7 linked regions of the Homo sapiens genome follow. The protein of the gene in region 5 purifies or fractionates together with the protein of the main gene of each other region. This does not show direct contact. Each region holds a gene or a part of one and is shown on either strand. Other genes may lie near its edges.

The links.
Region 1: the proteins of P2RY2 (region 5) and THADA purify together in Homo sapiens (affinity purification with mass spectrometry; one large-scale study listed by BioGRID and IntAct). This does not show direct contact.
Region 2: the proteins of P2RY2 (region 5) and CMTM6 purify together in Homo sapiens (affinity purification with mass spectrometry; one large-scale study listed by BioGRID and IntAct). This does not show direct contact.
Region 3: the proteins of P2RY2 (region 5) and SACM1L purify together in Homo sapiens (affinity purification with mass spectrometry; one large-scale study listed by BioGRID and IntAct). This does not show direct contact.
Region 4: the proteins of P2RY2 (region 5) and PTDSS2 purify together in Homo sapiens (affinity purification with mass spectrometry; one large-scale study listed by BioGRID and IntAct). This does not show direct contact.
Region 6: the proteins of P2RY2 (region 5) and DERL2 purify together in Homo sapiens (affinity purification with mass spectrometry; one large-scale study listed by BioGRID and IntAct). This does not show direct contact.
Region 7: the proteins of P2RY2 (region 5) and PIGG purify together in Homo sapiens (affinity purification with mass spectrometry; one large-scale study listed by BioGRID and IntAct). This does not show direct contact.

What each region holds. Positions count from the first base shown.
Region 1 is NC_000002.12:43,233,195-43,236,038, reverse strand, and holds part of THADA (tRNA (32-2'-O)-methyltransferase regulator THADA), read left to right. Parts: intron 1-2,844. UniProt on the Homo sapiens protein: Together with methyltransferase FTSJ1, methylates the 2'-O-ribose of nucleotides at position 32 of the anticodon loop of substrate tRNAs.
Region 2 is NC_000003.12:32,485,853-32,489,352, reverse strand, and holds part of CMTM6 (CKLF-like MARVEL transmembrane domain-containing protein 6), read left to right. Parts: intron 1-1,316; coding exon 1,317-1,415; intron 1,416-3,500. UniProt on the Homo sapiens protein: Master regulator of recycling and plasma membrane expression of PD-L1/CD274, an immune inhibitory ligand critical for immune tolerance to self and antitumor immunity.
Region 3 is NC_000003.12:45,706,396-45,709,895, forward strand, and holds part of SACM1L (phosphatidylinositol-3-phosphatase SAC1), read left to right. Parts: intron 1-384; coding exon 385-512; intron 513-3,102; coding exon 3,103-3,252; intron 3,253-3,500.
Region 4 is NC_000011.10:456,779-460,278, forward strand, and holds part of PTDSS2 (phosphatidylserine synthase 2), read left to right. Parts: intron 1-3,408; coding exon 3,409-3,500. UniProt on the Homo sapiens protein: Catalyzes a base-exchange reaction in which the polar head group of phosphatidylethanolamine (PE) or phosphatidylcholine (PC) is replaced by L-serine. Catalyzes the conversion of phosphatatidylethanolamine and does not act on phosphatidylcholine.
Region 5 is NC_000011.10:73,221,281-73,224,780, forward strand, and holds part of P2RY2 (P2Y purinoceptor 2), read left to right. Parts: intron 1-3,500. UniProt on the Homo sapiens protein: Receptor for ATP and UTP coupled to G-proteins that activate a phosphatidylinositol-calcium second messenger system. The affinity range is UTP = ATP > ATP-gamma-S >> 2-methylthio-ATP = ADP.
Region 6 is NC_000017.11:5,479,679-5,483,178, reverse strand, and holds part of DERL2 (derlin-2), read left to right. Parts: intron 1-296; coding exon 297-370; intron 371-1,789; coding exon 1,790-1,883; intron 1,884-2,036; coding exon of another isoform or gene 2,037-2,078; intron 2,079-2,596; coding exon 2,597-2,792; intron 2,793-3,034; coding exon 3,035-3,125; intron 3,126-3,500.
Region 7 is NC_000004.12:505,710-509,209, reverse strand, and holds part of PIGG (GPI ethanolamine phosphate transferase 2, catalytic subunit), read right to left. Parts: intron 3,493-3,500; coding exon 3,283-3,492; intron 1,806-3,282; coding exon 1,617-1,805; intron 382-1,616; coding exon 240-381; intron 1-239.

The sequences.
Region 1 (2,844 bases), on a different chromosome or scaffold from region 5:
AGGAGATCGAGACCATCATGGCTAACACGGTGAAACCCCGTCTCTATTAAAAATTCAAAAAAAATTTAGCCGGGCGTGGTGGCGGGTGCCTGTAATCCCAGCTACTCGGGAGGCTGAGGCAGGAGAATGGCATGAACCCGGGAGACGGAGCTTGCAGTGAGCCGAGATCCCGCCACTGCACTCCAGCCTGGGCGACAGAGCGAGACTCTGTCTCAAAAAAAAAAAATGGTGCAGGATAGAGGCTACCTGTCCTGTCAGGTGGGGCTAGTGCAGCAGCCTAGCCTTCCTTGGTGGCATCTCTGGTCACCCCCATAGGTTCTTTATGGACTCAACAGGAATGTCACTTGAGCTGCAGATACTGATTTTGCTGATGGATGATGAAATTTTTTTCTTCCCTGTTGGGCTTTCAGTCCTTGCCTTAAGGAGACCATAAAAAAAGTGGTGGGAGGCCAGGTACAGTGGCTCATGGGTGTAATCCCAGCACTTTGGGAAGCCGAGGGGGCAGATCACTTGAGGTCAGGAGTTCGAGATCAGCCTGACTAACATGGAGAAACCCCGTCTCTACTAAAAATACAAAATTAGCCGGGTGTGGTGGCGCATGCCTGTAATCCCAGCTACTTGGGAGGCTGAGGCAGGAGAATCTCTTAAACCTGGGAAGCGGAGGTCGCGGTGAGCCGAGATGGTGCCACTGCACTCCAGCCTGGGCAACAAGAGCGAAACTCTGTCTCAAGACAAAACAACAACAACAAAAAAGTGATAAGCTGGGCACAGTGGTTCATGCCTGTAATCCCAGCGCATTGGAAGGCTGAGGCGGGTGAATCACTTGAGGTCAGGAGTTCAAGACTAGCCTGGCCAACATGGTGAAACCCCATCTCTACTAAAAATACAAAAATTAGCCAGCCATGGTGGCAGGAGCCTGTAATCCCAGTTACTCAGGAGGCCGAGGCAGGAGAATCGCTTGAACCCGGGAGGTGGAGGTTGCAGTGAGCTGAGATCACGCCACTGCACACAAGCCTGGGCAATACAGCAAGACTCAGTCTGAGAAAAAAAAAAAGAGTGATAAACCCACTGGGTGCAGCGGCTCATACCTGTAATCCCAGCACTTTGGAAGGCTGAGGTGGGTAGATCACTTGAGGTCAGGAGTTTGAGACCAGCCGGGCCAACATGGTGAAACCCAGTCTCTACAAAAAATACAAAAATTAGCTGGGCAAAAACAAAATTATCTGGGTGTGGTGGCACATGCCTATAGTCCCAGCTACTTGGGGGCTAAGGCAGGAGAATTGCTTGAACCCAGGAGGCGGAGGTTGCAGTGAGCCAAGATCACGCCACTGTACTCCAGCCTGGGCAACAGACTCTGTCTCAATCAATCAATAAAAGTTGAAGGGAAAAAAGAAAGAAAAAGGCCACTTAATTATCCCTTCTCTATACAGATTCTCAGCCAATTGAGAACTGCAGAAAGGAGTTAGGTAGAGGTAAAAATGGAGATTGTATTGTAGGTAGAGGCCCAGTCAACACATGGCTCAGACCCACAGCCAAAATGCACCTTCACCCCCTCCCCTTTTCTGTTTCCTGGTTTAAATCTGGGTTCTAGGCTGCAGAGCAAGCAGCATGGGGAACGGGGACACTAAAGGGCAAGTGTCCTGGGGGACTTATCTGGAGCTCTCAAGATGGTGAGATCAGTACTTTCACCTGCTTACATGCAACTAGGTGCTGCTGTGTGACCTCTGAATAGTCCTGGCCCTACTGCAGGGTCACTACCCCTGCTGACCCCACCATCAAAACCTCTGGATTGTTGATGCTGGGTCTCCAAATCTGCGCTTTGCATGCACCATGAAACTTGTTGCCAACTGTAATTTCTTGATGTGTGCAAGTGGGTTACATAATACCCAACCCATAGGATGCTAGAAGGACTGGGGAGACAGCATTTGATCAGGGCCTGGCACTCACTAGGCCCTCAGTGGGGCCATCCCAGTAAGCCTGGTTCAACACCCACGGGAACTAAGCCTGCTGTTGCAGATTCTCGGTCGTCTGCCTGTGTGCCGAGTAAGTCTTTCGGGGGCCAGATGGTCAGGGTAAGTCTGTGTGCTCAAGTTAGAGATGTGGATTTGGGAGTGATCAGGGCTCAATAGAAATGCATCATTGAAAGACAGGCCTTTCAATGTCAGTTGGTGCAAGATGGGCCTACAGAGGTCCATTGTGCAGTGGGCTTTCAGTCCCGTGTTTCAGACACCCTCCAGGTTTGGGATGGGAGGGGCAGAGTTGTTAGGGGAAGTGACAACACCCCTGAGCCTCCCTCCAAACCCATATTTAGGATTGTCTAAGGCCAAATGTTGAAATAAGCAATGGTTTCCCCAAGGCCCCCTGCTTCCTCTTTCTGCACCCTTCTATTCTTTCAGTGCCCTTCCTCCAAGCACCCAGGAAAACAAGGGTCCAAAAACAAAAAACTCCGAGACAGAGGGCAGCAAAATAGGAGCCAAATGCAGCCTACCACCTGCTTTTTACAGCCCATGAGCTATCAATGGTTTTTACATTTTTAATTGGTTGGGAAAAAATAATATTTTGTGACACATTAAATTCAAATTTCAGTGTCCATAAATAAAGTTTTATTGGAACACAGCCACAACCATTTGTTTACAGATTGTCCATGGCTGCTTTCAGCCGAGGTGAGGAGGTATAGGCTTGCAAAGTCTAAAATATTGACTCTCTGGCCCTTTAAGGAAAAGCTTGCCGATGCCCTGCTCTAGGATGTGTCTTGTGCCCAAGAGATCTGCTTTCCAAGGAAAGGGCAAACCAGTCAAATCCAGGCAGATGTGCAGAGGAGACACTGGACAGGGAAGCCTTCCT
Region 2 (3,500 bases), on a different chromosome or scaffold from region 5:
TTTATATAAATGTTAAGTGAATGATTGACAATTTAGGAATTCTGTGTTAAATAGTTTTATTGATTTTTTTTTTTTTTTTTTTTGAGATGGAGTCTCGCTCTGTCGCCCAGGCTGGAATGCAGTGGTGTGACCTTGGCTCACTGCAACCTCTGCCTCCTGGGTTCAAGTGATTCTCTTGCCTCAGCCTCCAGAATAGCTGGGACTACAGGCACCCACCACCACGCCCAGCTAATTTTTTTTGTATTTTTAGTAGAGACAGGGTTTCACCATGTTGGTCAGGCTGGTCTCGAACTCCTGACCTCGTGATCTGCCCGTCTCGGCCTCCCAAAGTGCTGAGATTACAGGCGTGAGCCACCGTGCCTGGCCAGTTTTATTGATATTAGGTTTAGTGGAGTTTGCAGTTCAGAAAACTCAAAAAGTATCAGACTTAAAACCCTTTGGAGTGGCTATCATTTTACCAAGTTTCCCTTTCTGAATCAAGTATATATGTCATTACTGTTTTCAGTTGGCATATGAGAGCCTTGTGAGGTAATGCCTGAGAGAGCACTTGGAAACCCATGAAACATCTCATGATTGTAAGCTGCATTATGATAAGATATGGAAGCTTTTATGTAGTAGATAAACTCATCATATAAGCTCACTGTAGATTACCCACTTGGAACAGTTGAAGGCAATGTGTTATTCCAGAAAGCTTCAGTGTCTAAAAAACACACTATTGGCATACTTCTATTTAATAACGGGTGGTTTTTAAAATTCTTTCTTTTAGAAAGTGCTTTCAAAGCATTGGAGTGCTCTCAGAGATGTCATCCTACCATAAAATACTTTGAAAGGAAAGAAAAATGCTTTTTTGCTGGAAGTAAGATGGAATTGTAATAAATGCTTTGGCTTAGATAATTTTAATATGTCCCAGAGAAAAAGAGGACACACACAAACACTTGCACGAGATACACACGAGATCTTTTCCGGGACTGTTTTTTTTTTTTTTTCTTTTTTTGGACTGGATAATAAAAAATGTCCCAGTTAGCTGGGACTACAGGCTCATGCCACCTCTCCTGGCATAGGGGATTGTTGTTATTAAAAGTTTATCTTGTAATGTGTTCTCTCAATAATCCCAGCCCAGTGTGGATACTGTTTTTTTACAGGGTATTTATTGAATGCCAGGCTTATTGAAAAGTTAGAAGTTTGGGTATGTAAGTTTGGGTTGTATCAAGAAAAACAAGTAAGTAGCCAGAGCTTTTTAAAGTTAAAAATGAAAAAGTTCATTTCCATGAATCTAACTGTATTGTATTCCTTTTGTGTTTTGTATGTATGCATAGGATTTTTATATTACTTTGGGAACAGGATGTGTGTTTTTGTTGGCATCCATCATTTTTGTTTCCACACATGACAGGACTTCAGCTGAGATTGCTGCAATTGTAAGTACCTTGTATTTTTAACATTGCTTATTTTTGTTTCCTTAGAAATATGGAATTTGGAGAGTACTTGACAAGTTATACAGCATGTTAGAGTTGTTTTTCTTATAACTTACTTTTTAGTGTAATTTTGAATAGAAGACCTACAAGCAAATCAATATGATAGCCTTTAAAACCTAGAGCCTATAGAATTTGACTGAATTTTGTTTAAAAAAAATCCACTTACTCCACATACCGTGTGTTATTGCTAATGGAAGTGGTAAAATTGACTTTATTATTTTATATTTCTCCACTTTCAGTTCAATAAATGCACACCTACATGCCAGGTGTTTTCTAGGTATGGAGAATATATGGGAGAAATGATTCAGAGACTCAGTCTAGAAAAGGAGACGGAAAAGTAAAATTGTAATGGAGTTTGTTAAATGAACCAATAGCAGTTGTTCTGAGACTGGGTGCCGTGGCTCAGGCTTGTAATCCCAGCACTTTGGGAGGCCAAGGTGAGAGAATCACTTGAAGCCAGGAGTTCAAGACCAGCCTGGGCAAGCAACATAGTGAGACCTCATCTCTATAAGAAGAAAAAAAAAAATAATAGAAAAAAAAGTTGGTCTAGACAGCAGTTTTCAGTGGGTTATACATATCCTTAAAGTTTCATCAGACTTTTCAAGGAGTATGAGGCAGAGATAGTGTTGAGGAAATTAATTTCCAGCTTTTAAACCTCCATATGTAATCTTTTTTAAAACTTGTATGTCTGAGAATTTATCTCTGGTGAAGGAGTCTCACCGGCACTTTTCCACCTTCCCATTCACAGTCGCCACCTACCTTGCCCCTCAAAAAGAAAAAAAACTTGCTTGTCCTGAATCTTGCTGGATTAGTTCCTTCTTGCCCTGCTATATAGAAATACCTGACACTGGGTAACTTATAAAGAAAAGAGGTTTAATTGCCTCATGGTTCTGACAGCTCTATAGGAAGCATAGCAAGGGAGGCCTCAGGAAATTTACAGTCATGGCAGAAGGCGAGGCGGAAGCAGGCACATCTTACATGGCCAGAGCAGGAGGAATAGAGAGAGTGGGGAGGTGCTACACACTTTTAAACAAGCAGATCTTGCAGTAACTCACTATTACAAGAACAGCGCCAGAGGGGGAGTCTGCCCCATGATCCTGTCACTTCCAGCTAGGCTCCACCCCCAACATTGGGGATTATAATTTGACATGAGAATTGGGTGGGGACACAAACCCAAGCCATATCACTTATTATGGTGGATTACCCTGAATTGTAAAACAAAAAAACCCTTGAGTACAACAAAGAGACAGTTGAAAATAAAGATCCAATTTTTCTCTGAAATTCTTGGGGCCAGAATTTTTTTCTTTTGGATTCAGAATATTCTGGATTTTAGAAAGGTAGTGCTGTACATATGCTATATTACACAACACCACTTGAGGGCCTGCGACAGTACCCTGTAATCTAACATTGGTATATCTGAAGTAAAACATATGAATATTTATAGTAAAAGGGATAAGAAAAGACTAAGTAGTCTTACTCCATGTAAATAGGCTTACTTTGTGTCAATTTTGAGCCAAGTGAATCATGAAAACCTTGAGTTAATGTAGTTCTTTGGGTTTCGGAATTGTAAATTAAGGATCATGGCCTTGGACTGGTAGCAGTGCTGTGAACTTGAATGACTAGCAACTGGACAACAAATCATCTTGCAAGTCAGCTGGTTTCCAATTAATACTTTGTTTTTAACAAAATTGAAGTTAGGCCGGGCGTGGTGGGTGGTGGGTCAACGCCTGTAATCCCAGCACTTTGGGAGGCCAAGGCGGGCGGATCAGGAGGTCAGAAGTTTGAGACCAGCTTGGCCAATATAGTGAAAGCTTGTCTCTACTAAAAATACAAAACTTAGCCGGGCATGGTGGCAGGCGCCTGTAGTCCCAGCTACTCGAGAGGCTGAGGCAGGAAAATCGCTTGAACCGAGGAGGCGGAGGTTGCAGTGAGCCAAGATTGTGCCACTGCACTCCAGTGTAAGTGACAGAGTGAGACTCCATCTCAAAAACCAAAAACAAAATTGAAGTTGTAATTAATAGAGTTGTC
Region 3 (3,500 bases), on a different chromosome or scaffold from region 5:
GTCAGATCTCACGTCCTGATGCTTTAAGCTGCCTGCTGGGAAATGATTAGCAGAGGTCTGTATCCCTTGGGGGTGATGAAAGAGAGAAAGAGAAGTATTTTCTGTCTCTACTTTCCATTTACTAAGACAAATCCTTTGGTTATGAAAAGCTTTTGCTTTTATCTTTTTTGAGAAAAACATGACCTTTCAGTAAGAATTTTTCTAAATAATATGCTGACCTTTCTATTCATAAATTGTAAGGTTGCTTTAAAAATGGGCCTTTTATCTGAGTGGCACAATATAGTCTCATTCTACTAGCCTTTAAAGTTAAACAATAAGGACTCCTATTTCTACCTTTAGAGTTACTATTTTTATAATTATGTGTGTTTGGCTTGCTTTTTGCAGGTAATTATCTTATAGTCATTACCAAAAAGATAAAAGTAGGTGAATTTTTCAGTCATGTAGTCTGGAAAGCAACAGATTTTGATGTCCTTTCTTATAAGAAGACAATGTTGCACTTAACTGATATTCAGGTAAGAACTGGAAATTGTTACTAATTGCAGCGCCCAAAGAAGTAGCATGGGCTGGGGAGAGGAGGGTGAGGGTGTTGTGGAATACAAAGAATGCTATAATTATTTTAACAACCTATAGAGTAAGATCACTCTACCTACTTTTCTACCTAGGCATAAAAAATATTTTTTAAATCATTTGTTGCTCTTGTTTTTTTTTTTTTAAAGATTCAGTTCTTAAATTATGCAATTTCATATGGAGAGAAGGGAAAACAGAAATGCACGGGTACTCAACACCAGATTTAACTTCATATCCTCTTTGTAAAGAAATAAAATATAAATACCTTTGAAGTTCTACTCCTCTTAACTCATTCCCTTCTTTCCCAGAGAGGTTTTCTCTATTTTTACCACATGTGAATGTAAGTGTGTGTGTGTGTTTATGAAATGTGTATATATTCTTTCAGGCAGTTTTCCTTTTGCACTATTCCTGTATGCACAGATTTCAGTAACCATAGTTTAGTTAACACCAGTACCCAAACAGCATGGCTTAAATTTCAGTTACTCCAGTTTATTAACTGAAGAATTAACCCACCAAAGATGAAGGTGCAAAAAAACAAAAAGCAACAACTCTGGAAGAGAAATTGAAATTGAACATAAATGGAGCATAGAAGAAGTAGCTGACCATGGGAATGCTGACACTATTCACCATTCAAGGGACAGTAGGTATGCAGCCAGAGGTCCTGGTGCAGGCGAACTGACCGACATTAATGATGGAGTGGCTGTGACGAAAGGGATGACAGTATCCCAGAGAAAGTGATGCCTGCAACAGACTTCCCATTAAAGGAAACCTTGGAGATATTTCCCAACATTGAAAGTGCAAAGGATAAAATGTCAGAAGTTGGTTTAGACTTAGGAAGGTGTATGACAGTTCACCAGGGATAGAAGAAATATTCTGTATCTTAATCTATATGACAAGAAGGCGGCAAGCACTGTTCAAGTCTCTTGATAAATTTTTTTACAAAGAAAATATTTTTTATTCTCGGTGTTTCTAATGTTTTAAATTATAGTGTGCTAAATATTAGTTTTACAATTTGTTCATTTATGCTTATAATTTACTATATATAACTTACAAGTTACATCTACAACGTAACTATATAAGTTAATATCTATAACTAATATCTATAACTTACAATAGAGTTTTTAATGTTTTGACAAAAAAAATTTTTAAAGGTCATGAAACAGTCATAGTTTTTACAATTGACTGTTAAGATAGCTTAAGATTATTAAGATGAAAATAACATGGTAATTTTTACATTCCCACTTTACAAAGTAAAGACTGCCTGTATTCATATTTAAACAGGATCTGTTTTTGCTCGGAGTGTGTATGAAACTTACATGAATGGCATTGCCCTGTTCTGATTCTTTGAAACTTACTTTTTAAAGTCAACATTGTTTAGAGATATATATACCTGTTGAGAGTGATTGTTTTCTTAATGTAATTTTAGTTACATGTTTGCTATTTAAAAATTTTAAGTTGTATTTTTACACCCAATTTATAAGAATGTTTCTAGAAGAAAATATATTATTCTAAAACATATAACTTAGGATAAACATTTTAAAAAATAAAATTATAGCACTGCCTACCTGAGTAAAACTACAGGATATGCTTTTTATACTTTAGAATTTCTTTTTTATTATATATATCAAGAAATATATATCAATATCTTCATTCTCTACTAGGCATATTTTAAAGAAATAAAAACAGCTGTATTTATTTAATAGACCAGTCATATTTACTTAGACAATTTCTTCTCGATTGTTATTCTTTGTTGTCAAGCTGTGTAGCTAATTTTAAAAACATGTCTGAGCACAAATAAAAAATTTTGTATATGTAGATTTGTAACATGTAGATTAACAAGTTAATCATTTAGTAATGATTAAACGTTACCAAACATTAACAATTGTTTTTTAAAACAAGGATAAAAACAAATGTCAATCTTAGTATTCATTGGGAAAGCTAGTTAAAATGGTTTCCCAAAAATAAAGATAAATATTGCTTTTACTGGACTTTTTAATCTTTGTTTTAAAGAAAAAGAATTCCATTTTACTTCTCGTCCATCCCAAACCAGGGAACGTTTCTTGAGAATGTGGATGATGTTAGTATCTTGTTATTTGCTGTTTGCATTATTGGGCCCGTCGTAAATTTATGTGTTTTATTTGTCGAAGATAGCTATGCTAACTTAGCAGGGCTGTTGTGAAGATTAAAGGGAATCTTTGGAAAATACCTGGCACACAGTAGGTCATAACCGAAGGTGATGTTTTGTTAAAACTACTCTTCTGCCTTTGAGAATAAAATTTGTAAAGGATACAAAGGGGAGGAGTCCTACCTAATCAAGTTACCTAATAGTACCCTACAGTGTTTATTGAGTATCTTCTGTGTGTCAGGAACTGTCCTACATCCCAGGGAAATGGCGAGCATCCCCCTCACTGGCTCAGTCCTTGTGCCAGTAGTCTTTAATGAGACTGGACTTAACAGGATTTAATTTGTATTCTTTTCTCATGCTGGCAGATTCCTTTTCAATTATGAGCTATACTGATTTTTCTTTGTTTATAGTTACAAGATAATAAAACCTTCCTAGCGATGCTAAACCATGTCTTGAATGTGGATGGATTTTACTTTTCAACAACATATGATTTGACCCATACTTTGCAGCGGCTATCCAACACTAGTCCTGAATTCCAAGAAATGAGTCTCTTGGAAAGGGTAAGCTTGATCTTCAATTATTTTTATTTTTAGGTTTTTAAAAGGGACATGTCTCTGTTTCATGCATAAAAATTTATATTGATTTTTCTCAGTCCTGGCTATCTTAGAATCATGTATGAGGCTTTGAAAATATACCCTGTTTTAAATATACATCACAATCCCAGTGTGTGAGTCCTTGAATCTGTGTATATATACAGCCAGAATTGAGAATCACTGGTGTAGATATTCAGAAATCTTTGTATAAACAC
Region 4 (3,500 bases), about 73 Mb from region 5:
GTCTCTCAGTACTGAAGGGCCCCACGGTGTGGAGCTCAGCAGGAAGGCTGAGGTTCCCTGCGGTTTCCTCATGGCTTAGGACTCAAATGCAAATGTATCTAAAGAAAAAGGTGGTTGATAGTCACAATGAAACTTTTATTTACCTCTGGTTGTCTTAAATGCCTAGTATTGTAAAATATGGCAGAAGAATTCACTTTCATGCCTGTAATCCCAACACTTTGGGAGGCCAAGGTGGGCAGATCCCTTGAGTTCATGAGTTTGAGACCAGCCTGGAAAACATGGCAAGACCCCGTCTCTACAAAAAATACAAAAAAATCCAACCTGACCCACATGGCAAGACCCCATCTGCACAAAAAATACAGAAAGTTCCAGCCTGGAGCCTCCACCTGCAGTCCTGCAGCTCCACCCTGGCTCTTCATGAAATCGGCTAAGTCCAGGTGTGGGTGCGTTCAGTGCAGCACCCACGTGCAGGTGACACGCCCATGCACCGCCACAACCACGCTCACACCAGAACATTCCATCATCCGGAAGGCCCGTGTCTCCGCTCCAGTCTGCTTTTCGTGGATGCAAACTCATTTCCTTGAGTCGTGTGTGGGTGACAGCAGATGGGAGGTTTCTTTTGTGCCTGGCGTCTGTAGCGTGTTTTTCTTTTTCTTTTTTTATCTTTTGAGACGGGATCTCACGATGTTCATGATGTTGCCCCGGCTGGTCTTGAGCTCCTGGCCCAAAACAGTCCTCCTGCCTGGGCCTCCCAAGGGGCGTGTCTTTGAGATCTATCCACGTTGAGGTCGTTGCCAGCAGCACATTCCTCTGAGTGCTGAGCCATGCTCCGCTGGTCGGAGGGACCACAGTGTTTCCTCCACTGATAGAGTTTTGGTTTGTTTCCCGTTTTAGGTTATTATACCTGAAACATCTGCATGTAAGTCTTTGACTGGACCTGTGTTTTCATCTGTCTCAGGCCCACGTTTGGGAGTGTGTCTTTGACTGGACCTGTGTTTTCATCTGTCTCAGGCCCACGTTTGGGAGTATGTGGCTGGCTGGATAGCAGACGTAGCATAGGCCTCACTTTTCTGTGCCGTTTTGCAGTCCCACCTGCAGTGCGTGAGCATCTTGCTCCGAGACCTCACCAGCACTCTGCATTGTGATGTTCTTAATTTCAGCCGTTCCAGCAGATGTGCACTGATGCTGTGTCGTGGCTTGGATTTGTGATGCTTTTAATTTCAGCCGTTCCAGCGGATGTGTACTGATGTGTCCTGGCTTGGATTTGCTTTCACGGTGACCAGTGCTGCTCCTCGTTTGTTCATGTGCTTATTGGCCATTTGTATGTTTTCCTTGTGAAGTGTCTGTTCAATTTTTTGCCTATTTTTTCATTAAATTGTTTATTGAGCTGTATGAGTTCTTTATAAATTCTGGATAAAAAGTATTTTTTTTCTTTTTTTTTTTTGAGATTGAGTCTCGCTCTGTCGCCCAGGCTGGAGTGCAGTGGCGCGATCTCGGCTCACTGCAGGCTCCGCCTCCCGGGTTCACGCCATTCTCCTGCCTCAGCCTCCCGAGTAGCTGGGACTACAGGCGCCCACCCACCACACCCGGCTAATTTTTTGTATTTTTAGTAGAGATGGGGTTTCACCGTGTTAGCCAGGATGGTCTCGATCTCCTGACCTCGTGATCCGCCCGCCTCGGCCTCCCAAAGTGCTGGGATTATAGGCGTGAGCCACCGCGCCTGGCCTGATTTTTTTTTTTTTTTTTTTTTTTGAGACAGATCTTGCTCTGTCTCCCAGGCTAGAGTGCAGTGGCACAATCATCCTAGCGCACTGCAGCCTCAACCTGGGCTTAAGCGAATCTGCCACCTCCCGAGTAGCTGGGACTACAGGTGCCTGCCACCACGCCTGGCTAATTTTTTATAGAGATGGGGTCTCACTGTGTTACCCAGTCTGGTCCTGAACGCCTGGGCTCAAGCAATCCTCTTGTCTCAGCCTCCCAAAGCGTTGGGACTACAGACGCGTGCAGCCTACAAAGTTTTATCAGATATATGTATTGTGAATATTTTCTCCCAGTTTGTGACTTGCCTTTTCATTTCTTTAGGGCACAAATAGTTTACATTTCATGGAGGCAAGTCCTGGGCAACATGCTTTAAGTGCATTGTTCACTTAATTTTCATGATGTCCTTGGAAGTCAGAAGCTTCCCCATTTAGATATGAGGAAACTGAGGCACGGAGGGGTGCATCATCTCTCCAAGGACACACTCCAGTGGATGTAGGACCTGGGTTAGACGTGAGGACACACTCCGGTGAATGTAGGACCTGGGTTAGACGTGAGGGGACACTCCGGTGGATGTCGGACCTGGGTTAGACGTGAGGACACACTCCGGTGGATGTCGGACCTGGGTTAGACGTGAGGACACACTCCGGTGGATGTCGGACCTGGGTTAGACGTGAGGACACACTCCGGTGGATGTCGGACCTGGGTTAGACGTGAGGACACACTCCGGTGGATGTCGGACCTGGGTTAGACGTGAGGACACACTCCGGTGGATGTCGGACCTGGGTTAGACGTGAGGACACACTCCGGTGGATGTAGGACCTGGGTTAGACGTGAGGACACACTCTGGTGGATGTAGGACCTGGGTTAGACATGAGGAAACTGAGGCACAGAGGGGTGCATCATCTCTCCGAGGACACACTCCGATGGATGTAGGAACTAGGTCTCTGCCTCCATTTGCAGATGGTCATGCAGAGGGGGTCTCAGGCGAGTGTCTGGCACAGGCAGTGGCTGGGGTCTGGTGGCCCCCAGTTCTGATACTAGGCTGGTTGTGGGCTTTTCCACCAGCGATGGGACAGGACAAGACTGCAAAGGGAGCGCCCTGCCTCCTCCTCCCACGTCTGGGCTCTGACAGGCCAGAGGACGGGCAGACCCACGGCTCGTGGCTCACTCCAGCTAGCAGCGGTCACTCTGCAGGCCTCTGCTCAGGCCCCTTCTCAGCTCTTGGTGTCTTGGGCTGCTGCACTGAATCTCAGATGTTATTTCATGAACCCAAAGAGTTGTTGTCTCGGCTTGTCTTGCGCAGTGAAAAGCGCGTGTTTTACGTGTCCAGTTGCTCTTAATAGCAGATACCTGCCCTGGACGCCAGTGGCAGCATGTGCCCTCTGAGCAGCGGCCTTCAGCTTCCCAGGAACACGGGGCTCTTCCTGTCCAGCCTCCTGGGGGCTGGTCTCAGCCCTGACTGGCCAGCAGACGCAGGGTCATCTCGGAGTTACCCAGCTAGGGACTCGCAGCCAGTTGCTGGTTGGGAGTTGGAGAGTGGAGTTTAAGCCCTCTCCTTGACGTAGAGAGGATTTGGGGCCTGTTACGTGAGTATTTAGCAATGCTGCCCAAGCTCTGACACCATGCTTATGCGTTTTTGGATTTCAGGCGAGCCCACACCTTAACCGTGCTCTTCATCCTCACCTGTACGCTTGGCTATGTGACGCTGCTGGAGGAAACACCTCAGGACACGGCCTACA
Region 5 (3,500 bases):
GAGGGAGGAATTGTATCTCCATTTTGCAGATCAGGAAATAGAGGCATGGATTGTATCCTGCCCAGGGTCACCAAGCTGAGGTGAAACCTGGGGCTCCAGTCCACCTGCCAGCTTAGCCCTCCCCATCTGAGACAGAGCCCTGTTAGGGTTAGGCCTGGTCCTCTGGCTTCCAGGCTGAGGGGAGTTTGAATTCTGCCCTGGGAACCTGTGTTTGGGGCTTTCTTGTGGCCAGATTACCCAACTGCTGATAAGGTAACGCCTGCCCAGACCTGCCCACGGGACCAGAGATGCCTTGTTGATCTGGTGAGGGGAGTGGGGGTTGCCCCTCATGCCTTCCACCCAAACCGCCTCTCCCCAAACTGCTTTCTGTAGGCCTGCTTGCTATACCCTCTGGGCCACACCTCCTCTTGGTTGTCCTTGGGTCCTGAGGCCTGGCCTTCCCTTATTACTGGGCCCTGATAGGAGGAGGCTGGCTGTGTGGGCCACTCTGACCTCTGTACTCATCCAGCGGCCAGTTGCAGGACTAGGCTAGGCCATACCTGCTTTCTCTCTCTGTCCCCATCAGCCACCACAGGTTGGGCTCAGAGCAGCTGCCAGTGGGTCTTTGGGAAATGAGTGGCCAGGCGGGAGTAGGCATGGAGTAGAAGGGGAGGCTTTGCTCCACGGAGTGCCATAGTTGGTTCTGGAGCAGAGGAGTTCCTCCACCCCATCACCCCATCTCCTAGGCCTGAGTCTTTCCTGGTCCAAGATGAGTAGCGGGAGTTTCTGGTAGGAGGGTGAGCAGCCTGGGCCCCGTGGAACAACTCCTTGACCCTCTGCCCTGGTACCTTGTCACTGTCATTGTAGCTCCTGAATGAGAGGCCTGGGTGCTGGAGTGAGGGAAAGGGACCTCCCTCAGACTTCTGGGGCTTTATGTGGCCTCTCCCTCCCCAGGTCTGAGGAGAGCCTCTGGGTGTCGACCTGGCTTCCTGGTGAGTGCCCAGCCACCCAGCCCTGGCTTGTAGGAGGGGGACTCTTGCCATGGCTGGGCTGTTGCAGGAAATCCAGGGCCAAGGGACCTGCTCCTCTCATGGCACCACCGTATGTGTCGTCTCCTCCTTGGTCTCCCTCCCTCCAGACTCCCTGTCCCATCTACCTTCCATGTGGCACCATCTTTGTAAAGGTTGACTCTGACCATGTCCTTCCCCTCTTAAGCCTTCCATGGCTCCTCAGTGTCCTTAGAATAGAGGCCAAGCTTTTCAGCCTGGCATTTGAGCCTTTTCAAGTGAATTCCTCAGGCTCCCACACATTCCATGCCACCTCACCCTCCACAGTAGCCGTATAAGACCTCCCAGCCTTTTTCCAGCAGGTCACACTTTCATCCACCAAGTCTTTGCTCATGCCTCTCCTGCCTTCAGAGCCCTCCTCCCTCTTTGCCCACCTGACAAACTCCTAATCATCTACCAGTTTCCAGCTCAGATGACCCCTCCTCTGCAGAAGCACTCCCTGACCACCTCCCCCAGGCCAGGTAGGAGTTGCTGTGTGCTCCATAACCCCTGGGCTTGCCTTGGTTATGGTTTATTCACCCAAGTGGATTTGGTCCATGTCTGTGTCTTTTTCCTCAGCCTGACTGGGTACTCCTCAAGGGCCCAGCAGAGTGCAATCTGAGTCTGAGTTCACAAGGTCCATCTGAGGCCAGGTGCACCAGAGCATTGGCAAGTGTTTGCTGGGACTTTGTGGTTCCTGGGAATGTGATTTAAGATTTCATTACTCTGAATCCAGACCCCTGTGGCTCTGAGAATCTCAAAACCAAAGGCTATCAGGAGCAACGAGTAATAGAATTGAAGAAACACAGCCTTCACACCCGGAACCAGAGCCTCTTGGAATTAGACTGCGAGAACCAGGGAACTCAGAATCCTGGAGGTACCTGGAGGGGCCATCTCAGAATCAGAGGCTCATGTGGTTCCTGGTTGATGCTTTCATCCCCCTTTCCACCTTGGATTCTCCATCCACCTTCTTTCCTCCCAAGCTGGACCCTTCCTGCTCCTCCTCAAATCTTATCACAGTTCCCCTTCCAGGGACCTTGCCTGACTGCTCTGACCATGACCTCTGTCCCTCTGCTGGGGAACACCTGGGAGGGCCTCCCTACCAAGCAGTGTCATGGGCTCCTGAATTTCAGTGTCTCCCTGTTGTGACAGGCAGACACAGCCTCCACATTAGGACAGTTCATGATTTGCTAGCGCCAAGGTGCACCCACCTGCCCCCTTGTCTTATTCCTCATGAGCTGTCCCATGCAGCAGTGATTCTCCCCATCTGACCACTGAAGAACCCGAGGCTCTGAGAAGGGGGGCTGACTTCACCAAGACTGCACAGCACAGGTGGCTCCAAGTTAGAGCCTGAACTCACGGTTCTTGCCTCTTGAAGCTGGAGGCATTTGGCTGTGATAGGTTGGGGTGGTGTCCAGGACGTTGTGGTTCTGAGCCTGTTTAATTTAGTAGCATGTCTCTGTAGCCCTGTTCTGGGCTATGCTGGGTTCCAGGTGAGATGGGTGGTTTGGGGTCCTGCTCTATGTTGGGGGTGAGGTGGTCAAACCCACACTGACAATAATTGGAACACTAGACCTTGAGTAAGGCCCTTCCTCTTTAGAGGTCTTGGCTTTCTGATCTGTAAGCCTGGTTGATCTGAGACTTACCCACTCTGATGCTGCTCTGAGCTCAGCCTTGGTGAGTGGCCTCCACAGCCAGGATCCTAGGGGGGTCCCAAAGAGGGAGAGAACATCTGGGAGGGGGTAGAGAGCCCAAGGGCCTCCTGAAGGGGGTGCCTAACACCACAACAGCACCGGCTGATAGCATCTGAGGTTACCCCTTAGCCATTTCCTCAGACCGGCCCTGGTGCTCCCGGTGCAGAAGCATGTCAGGCAAGGCAGGGGGCCTGCTGGCTTTCAGCCCCTTGAAGGACATTGGGGAGGAGCCAGCGTGACTTCTAAGCTCCTCAGCCTGTGCACTCTAGCCTTGCCCTCTCCACTCCCCTCAAGCCACCAGGATGATGAGCAGTTCCTCAAACGTGTCATGTCATCTCTTGTTCATCCTCACTCTGCTCCTCTTCTCTCTCCAACCACCTGACTCCTCGTCTTCCAAAATGCAGGTCAGGCGCTCTCTCCTCCAGGAAGCCTTCCCTCATCACCCCTCCAATCCTGTTAGGGGCCTCCTTGGCTTCCTCCAGGCCTGATCACCCTGTGTTATCATCGCCTGTTTCTGAGTGTGCCTCCCCTGACGTTGACAGTGAATTCCTTGAGATCTGACCTACCTCAGAGTCCCCAGGTGCCCTGCCCAGCAGTGGGCATAGATGTGGCAACCTTTGTGAAGGGTGAGCGAGTGAAAGAGTATGGTGGCTATCTGGCTTCTGCTGGGGAATCCCTGGACTGCCTTCCCCCTGAGGATGGCCTTCAGTGTGGGAGACCTGATCTGTGGTTTTTCTGGTTGTGACCTTCCTGTATCCCCTTCCCATAATTCCTGCGAAGC
Region 6 (3,500 bases), on a different chromosome or scaffold from region 5:
TTAACCTAGTCTTTCCAGCAAACTTTCTCCATACGACGATCACAATTTAAAATTTTCTTTCCTATTATTATAAATGTCACAGTCCCAATGATGTCTTTCAGACTTTGAACTAAAAGCAGCAAAAAAAATCTAACATCAGATTATATGCCCCCGTTTTTGTTTCAGAACAGAGTATCACTCTGTCCAAGGCTTCTCAACCACCGCAGTCATAGGATGTTTCTTTTGTATTAATATGGAACTGTTTCCTGGTAATTTATTTTACTTAATACATCTTTCTCTTGATTTTTTTTTAACAGATATGGAGATTAATCACCAACTTCTTATTTTTTGGGCCAGTTGGATTCAATTTTTTATTTAACATGATTTTTCTGTATCCTTTATTAAATGGGGTCAGCATCAAAACTTTTTCTTAGGAAGTAAAAAATTAAGTTGAAACTTTTCATCCTGTTACTTGTTTTTGGTACCATCTTAGCTATGATTTCTGGGTCAGTGGTACATAAAGTAGTTGCTTAGGTAGTAATGTTTTGAAAATGTCTGTAGGTCACTTTGTTCAAATGGGAGGTTTTAACCATAAAAAGATAGCACTTCTGCTCTTTTGTTACTTACAAATCTGATCAAGGGAGGGGAGAATTGATTTAACTGAGGCATACCTCCACAGTAACCAACAGGTTCGAAGCCGTAAAACAACCTGAATGCAATGGTAATTCAGCAGAATTTGGGCATAAGTTTTGGAATGGGTTCATGAGGAGTGGGAACCTGAGATCTCCTTGGGTCCTGGTTGCTGGAACTACTGGCTGAAAGACAGTGGTTGTGTCTGCTGGGCTTGTCAAGTTCCGGTTTGTTGAAAGGAAAACCCCAGCTCTGATCCAATGGTAATTGGGGCCACAGAGCAGGGCATTCCTCTTCCACCCCTGCCCTCTGTATTAAGAGGGAGTTACAGTTCAACTCATCTGCAGCTGCATTCCTTCCTGAGGATGGCAGGAATCCATTTTATATCCTATGTAGGATATCATTCTGATAAGTTTCCATTAAAGTTTTTTCTCATCGTAATTCATCTTTATTGACTGAGGTGCTCAACCTGCCAGGCTGGAAAAGTAGTTGAGCACACAAGGCTTCTTGCTGCGGATTTCTTCCAAGTTAGGATGTGGGAAAGCAAAGATGGTGCATATTAAGGTGTGGCTGAGCACAGGAAAGACAATACAAATTTTTAAAGGTTTAATAGGGGACTGGAGGGCCGGGTGTGGTGGCTCACACCTGTAATCCCAGCACTTGGGGAGGCCAAGGCAGTGGATCACGAGGTCAGGAGTTTGAGACCAGCCTGGCCAACATGGTGAAACCTGCTCTCTACTAAAAATACAAAAAATAGCCTGGCATGGTGGCACACAACTGTAATCCCAGCTACTCAGGAGAATGAGGCAGGAGAATCGCTTGAATCTGAGAGGCGGAGCTTGCAGTGAGCCGATATGGCACCATTGCACTCCATCCTAGGTGACAGAGCGAGACTCTGTCTCAAAAGAAAAAAAAAAAAGAATAGGGGACTGAAAGCATGTCTGTGTGTCATCTGGATTAGTTCCCAGCCAGGGACAGTTTGTAAAAAATGATGCTGGTCTTGACCTTTTCTCAAATGCTTGGTAAAAAAGTAATCACATTACCACTCAAACATTCTTATACAAATGAAGACTTGACTAATTACAAATAATATGGAATCCAAGTGTACTTACAAGATAACATTAAATTTTTACTTTGTTCATATTCGTGTGCTTAATATTTTCTTAACTTGGAACTTAAGATATCGTTACTGTCGAATGCTAGAAGAAGGCTCTTTCCGAGGTCGGACAGCAGACTTTGTATTTATGTTCCTTTTTGGTGGATTCTTAATGACCGTATCCTTCAACAAACAACACGGGAAAATGTTGAAGAACACCCTGGCTCTTCCTAAAGCTTGTCATCTGTCTCCCACAGTTCTCTAGATCTTAGCTTCAGGGCACTATCATTTATTTTACAGCACATTTTCTGTGACAAGTTTCCAAACCTAGCAGTCGGACAGGATGAGCAAGTCAAAGGAACTTTTAACCCAGGTGGGTTACTGTTAAGCAACTCAGTTATATCATTACTGCTTGGCGTACTTCACTTTTAAACTAAGTTGGTAAGACATTTACTTGGTGGCTACCAAAACCAATAAATTATTTTTTCAGAAAAAGAATTTTCATCTATACAATAGACTTAGATATGGTACGGTCTGACAAGATGGTTTTGTTCCAGCTAGCTTTATTCATCTCTGTAAAGGTGCTAATCGTGAGCAAGCTTTAATATAATTATTGACTGAAGAATTAACACATTTTCCAAAGAGGCAAGAACTTCACGAAAGCAGAGTATTTGTTTGAAGTAGCTGTAAATCTCGATAATTTAGCCTAAGCAGATTTTTGCCTGATTGCTCTGGGTAATTATTTTCTGGGTGTTTCTCCTTCTATTCTAAAGATGTAACAACTTGACTTTTCCAATTCAAACTTCTGTTAGAACACAATCTTTAGTTCTCCTGCTCAGTCTTTCCTATTAAACTTTTAATGTTGATATTTTCCTTAATGCCATCTGCTAGCTTTTTGGTCTGTTTGTGAGCTTAGTTTTCTTGGGCCAGGCCTTTACAATAATGCTCGTCTATGTGTGGAGCCGAAGGAACCCCTATGTCCGCATGAACTTCTTCGGCCTTCTCAACTTCCAGGCCCCCTTTCTGCCCTGGGTGCTCATGGGATTTTCCTTGTTGTTGGGGAACTCAATCATTGTGGACCTTTTGGGTAAGGCTCTTCTCACTATTTTTTAAATTATTTTACCTGTAAAAGTATTTTGTTACTATTTTTCATGTTTATTCTGTTTGGCCTTCACGTATTACCTATTGTAAAATACCACAATATTAGTTCATTAATTTTTAATAATTATGTTGACATTCATCCTAAATATAGGCAATTTGTGTTGGTAGGTCTACCTGCAATCTAAATTTTAATTCTCTCCCTCATCCTTTATTTCTGCTTGACTCTAGGTATTGCAGTTGGACACATATATTTTTTCTTGGAAGATGTATTTCCCAATCAACCTGGTGGAATAAGAATTCTGAAAACACCATCTATTTTGTGAGTATTTAACACCAGGTTACATACTCTTACAGGCAAACCAGGACAGGGGCATGATCTGTGTTTTCTTTGGCTCCCCTAGCTCCTAGTACACATAGCTCAGGTCAGTAACCATTTGCAGATTGAGCATTCTGGCTACAGTTGAAGAGCACTTGGACTGGGTAGGAGCAGACAGTGCCAGGGTTGTGGCAAGACCAACGTCAACAGGCTCAAGATATCTTGGGAGTAACCTGGTAATTGTTAGAGATGACCACTAGAACTTCTATTCTGGTAGGAGCCTGCTGGTTTTATGAAAGCTGCTGTCCACGTTTAGTGAAGTAAGGTAGCAAAATGGGCAAAACTGATGAAAGTTTCTGATGGTGGACTTTGTGGCCT
Region 7 (3,500 bases), on a different chromosome or scaffold from region 5:
ATCCAGGCAGCAACATTCATACAACAAAATTCTGACAAAGAATAACTGTATTTTAAGGATTCGGGAAGGAACGTAACTTCAGATCCCAAAAGCCTTTTGCCCAATTACTTTTCATGCTCACATTGCTTGGGGACTTCAACCTTATGGAGCTTCTAAAAAATAGGTTTTCAAAATTAAAACCAGACTATAGAAAACAAATGTAATACAATTTCCAACTGTTAACATTCCTAAATTCTCACCGGGTTTCCTTTCAAACGCAGAACTGATTAAAATCAGAGGTGTATTCACCTCCTCGGTGGAGGAGGCCCCGTGACTTCCTGTTTCAGACATGCCATGGTCACCACAAAGAACCAGCAAATTGGGTAAAGGCGTCTCTCTCTCCTTTAAGGCAAAGGAAAAACATTTCAACTGCGTTCAGACTGAAGAGAGCACATCATCTTAAGAAGACAATTTTCGGTTTTAGCTTTACTTTATAGAGTTGTAGCTCTTTCTCAATGAATTAGATTTTTTTTTCCTATGAGCTCATAGCCAGATCACAGGGTCACAGTCAAATAATGCCATAAATGAAGTTCACAGAATTGTACACAGCTCATGGAGCACAGCAGGCTGCATTTCTGCCCTCTGATGGCAGACGGTTTGTATCTGGTTTCTGTCTTTGCCACTGCCAAGCTGTGAGACTCTGGACGCATTCTACTCTGTGCCTTGGTCGCCTCATCTGTCAAATGGAATCTTTCACAGGACTCTGGTGAGAACACAACACACAGCAAAAGGCAAGAGCTCTGAGCCATGTGGGGGCACCCACCAGGCTTCTCTGCCCCTGGGGTTGCAGCCACACATCCTTTGCTGCTCCGGGACAAGCCAGGCAGGCTGTGCCTGACCCTCGCTGCTGGTCCTCCTGGAACACTCGTGCACAGACCACATGGTCTGCCCCTCCCTCCCTTCAAGTCTCTGCTCACCCTGCACACGTCTTCAGGGAAGGCTTCTCTCAACACGCTGTTGAAAGCCCCTCCTCCTGCCCTCTGAGTTTCTGCAGCACCCATCACCTCCTCACATACTTATTTACTCATCTTTCTCATCTCTCCTGGCTAGAGCGTGAGCTTCACGAGGGATTATCGACTGTTTCACTGATGCACCCAAATGCATGGACAAAAAGTGACATAGAACAGAAACAGAGACACAGAACAGACAGAGTGACACAGAACAGAGACAGTGGCACAGAGCAGAGAGAGTGACACAGAACAGAGAGTGACACAGAAGAGAGAGTGACACAGAACAGAGAGTGACACAGAACAGAAAGTGACACAGAACAGAGTGGCACAGAACAGAGAGAGTGATACAGAACAGAGAGAGTGGCACAAAAGGTCTTCAGGAGGTATTAGTTGAATGAATGCATACACGGGTAGGAGTGAGAGCTGCTGTTCTGCAGGGCTGCTGGAAGACGGAGTCAGTGCAGTGGACACTGAGACAGTGCTGCCCGTGTGGCATGCGGCCCCTGGCTAGCAGACTGATGGTGGACATTCACACAGGCACCCTGAATAACTCAGGCGGTTGCATTTATTCTAGGGAACATCCACGTGAAACCACATCAGCAGACAGTGAGCGACGGCGAGCCTCACCTTCGACTGCAGTGAGGTGTGGATCTTCATCAGCACGCTGTCCATCTCGCTCAGCTTCTGCCCAATCAGGGGGCTGTTGGGCCCTGAAATGTGGCCAATGTGGTCCAGCCCCAGGTAGTGGAGGATTAATATGTCCCAATCTCCTCTTTTTAATACTTTATCCAAATGCCTCGTGACATTATTATCCACCTTTGAAGGGGAAACACACGTATAAACAACTCACCTAATTTCCCTGGATCTTCACTCCCCGGGGAAAACGCAACAGTCATCTTAAAATCTAGGGGTTTATTCAGGTTACAGGATTTGGGGGAGTTGAAACACAACAAAATCTATGTCATTAAAAATAAATAAATAGGCTGGACACAGCAGCTCATGCCTTTCATCTCAACACTTGAGGAGGCTGAAGCGGGAAGACTGCTTGAGGCCAAGAGTTCAGGACCCACCTGGGCAACATAGCAAGACCCCACGTCTATAATAAATAAATGAACATTAGCATTGGATTAAACTTTTGCTAATATTGTTTTTATGTTTCTGGGCTATGGATCGAATATATTCTACAGATAATTTAAATGAGCAAGGGTTCTTCTGACAAAAATATTTTTCTGTGGGATCACTGCTGGGCTTAATGGGCATAACTGAAGGTGAGCAAATGGGCAAGTTAAATAGATCCCAAGTTGTCATGAGGTAACTAAGGGCAAAGGGCAGTTAATTAAAGACAGGACAGTACCCAGCGTTAAAGTAACCAGCAGGATGATGAAGCTGAGGGCATCTACATGTGTCCTACAAGAAGGCTGTTCTGAAAAAGACACAGCACTCAATGATCACATTGATTTCTGAAATAAACACATCACGGAGGAGAGATGAGCAGTTGATCAGCCCCCAATAGAGCTGTCAGCCTGGTGAGCCCTGACCCCTCAGCTAGCTCATCTCCCTCCCACTAAAAAAATCTCCTATGAAGAGAAGTGTTTCTCAGTGATGCCATATATAGTCAGGAAAACTCAGTCATTACTGAAAAGTAACTGTTGAAAAGCGCCCCACTTTGGAACAGGATAGGACTACAGATGCTCCATAAGGCCCAGCCATCTAGGAGGTGAAGCTGGCTAAACCCCAGGCCAGGCAGGTGTGCTGGTGTGCTCCTACCTCAGCCCCAGGTCTGCTTTCTAACATGCAGGTCTAATTTTTGTTGGAAAAGCTCCAGGAAAACCCCCTCAGGACCAGGCCCCACCCAGTCGGCCACCTGCCCTCAGGGCACGATGAGGCTCCGCTTGCAGCAGAACCAACAGGCTGTGGAGTCCTACAGCTCTGCCATGTGCAGAAGCTACCAGCCTGTTCTGCCCACCTGGGGAGTCCCCACTCACCCATCATATCTCGGCTCAGACAGTCCCTTGGCTGTGTCACCCTTCCTGATCCTCTCTGCCCCTCAATGGCACTCAGCTGTTCTAAGCTTTGGGTTCCATAAAACTCTGCTCACACCTGCTTCAGGTTTGTATTTCTGGGTTGTTAACTGATTATGTGAGTGAATAATTTTTACACCTGTCCATAGTACTCCCTATAAATTAATAAAACCAAATATAAAATGGTATCATCTCTCACTAAGTAATGGGATGCCAGGCTCTATCTAGTATGATATTCTAGTATGATATATTTTCTTATTTTAAAAACTGACCTCTGTGTAATCTGACACGAAAAATGAGGTTGTTCCATCATATTCCACAAAATGCTTTGGGAATAATTTAACCCAGGTTTCATCTCCATAAAAGACTATTCTTTTTCCAGCTGCTTTTGCTTGTCTTATCACACTGTCTTCCAGCAGTGCAGGAGAATTGAGGTTCCTGATGACGTCGACAAAGCCAGGAAGGCTCCCCGTCATCAATGCCTGCAGTC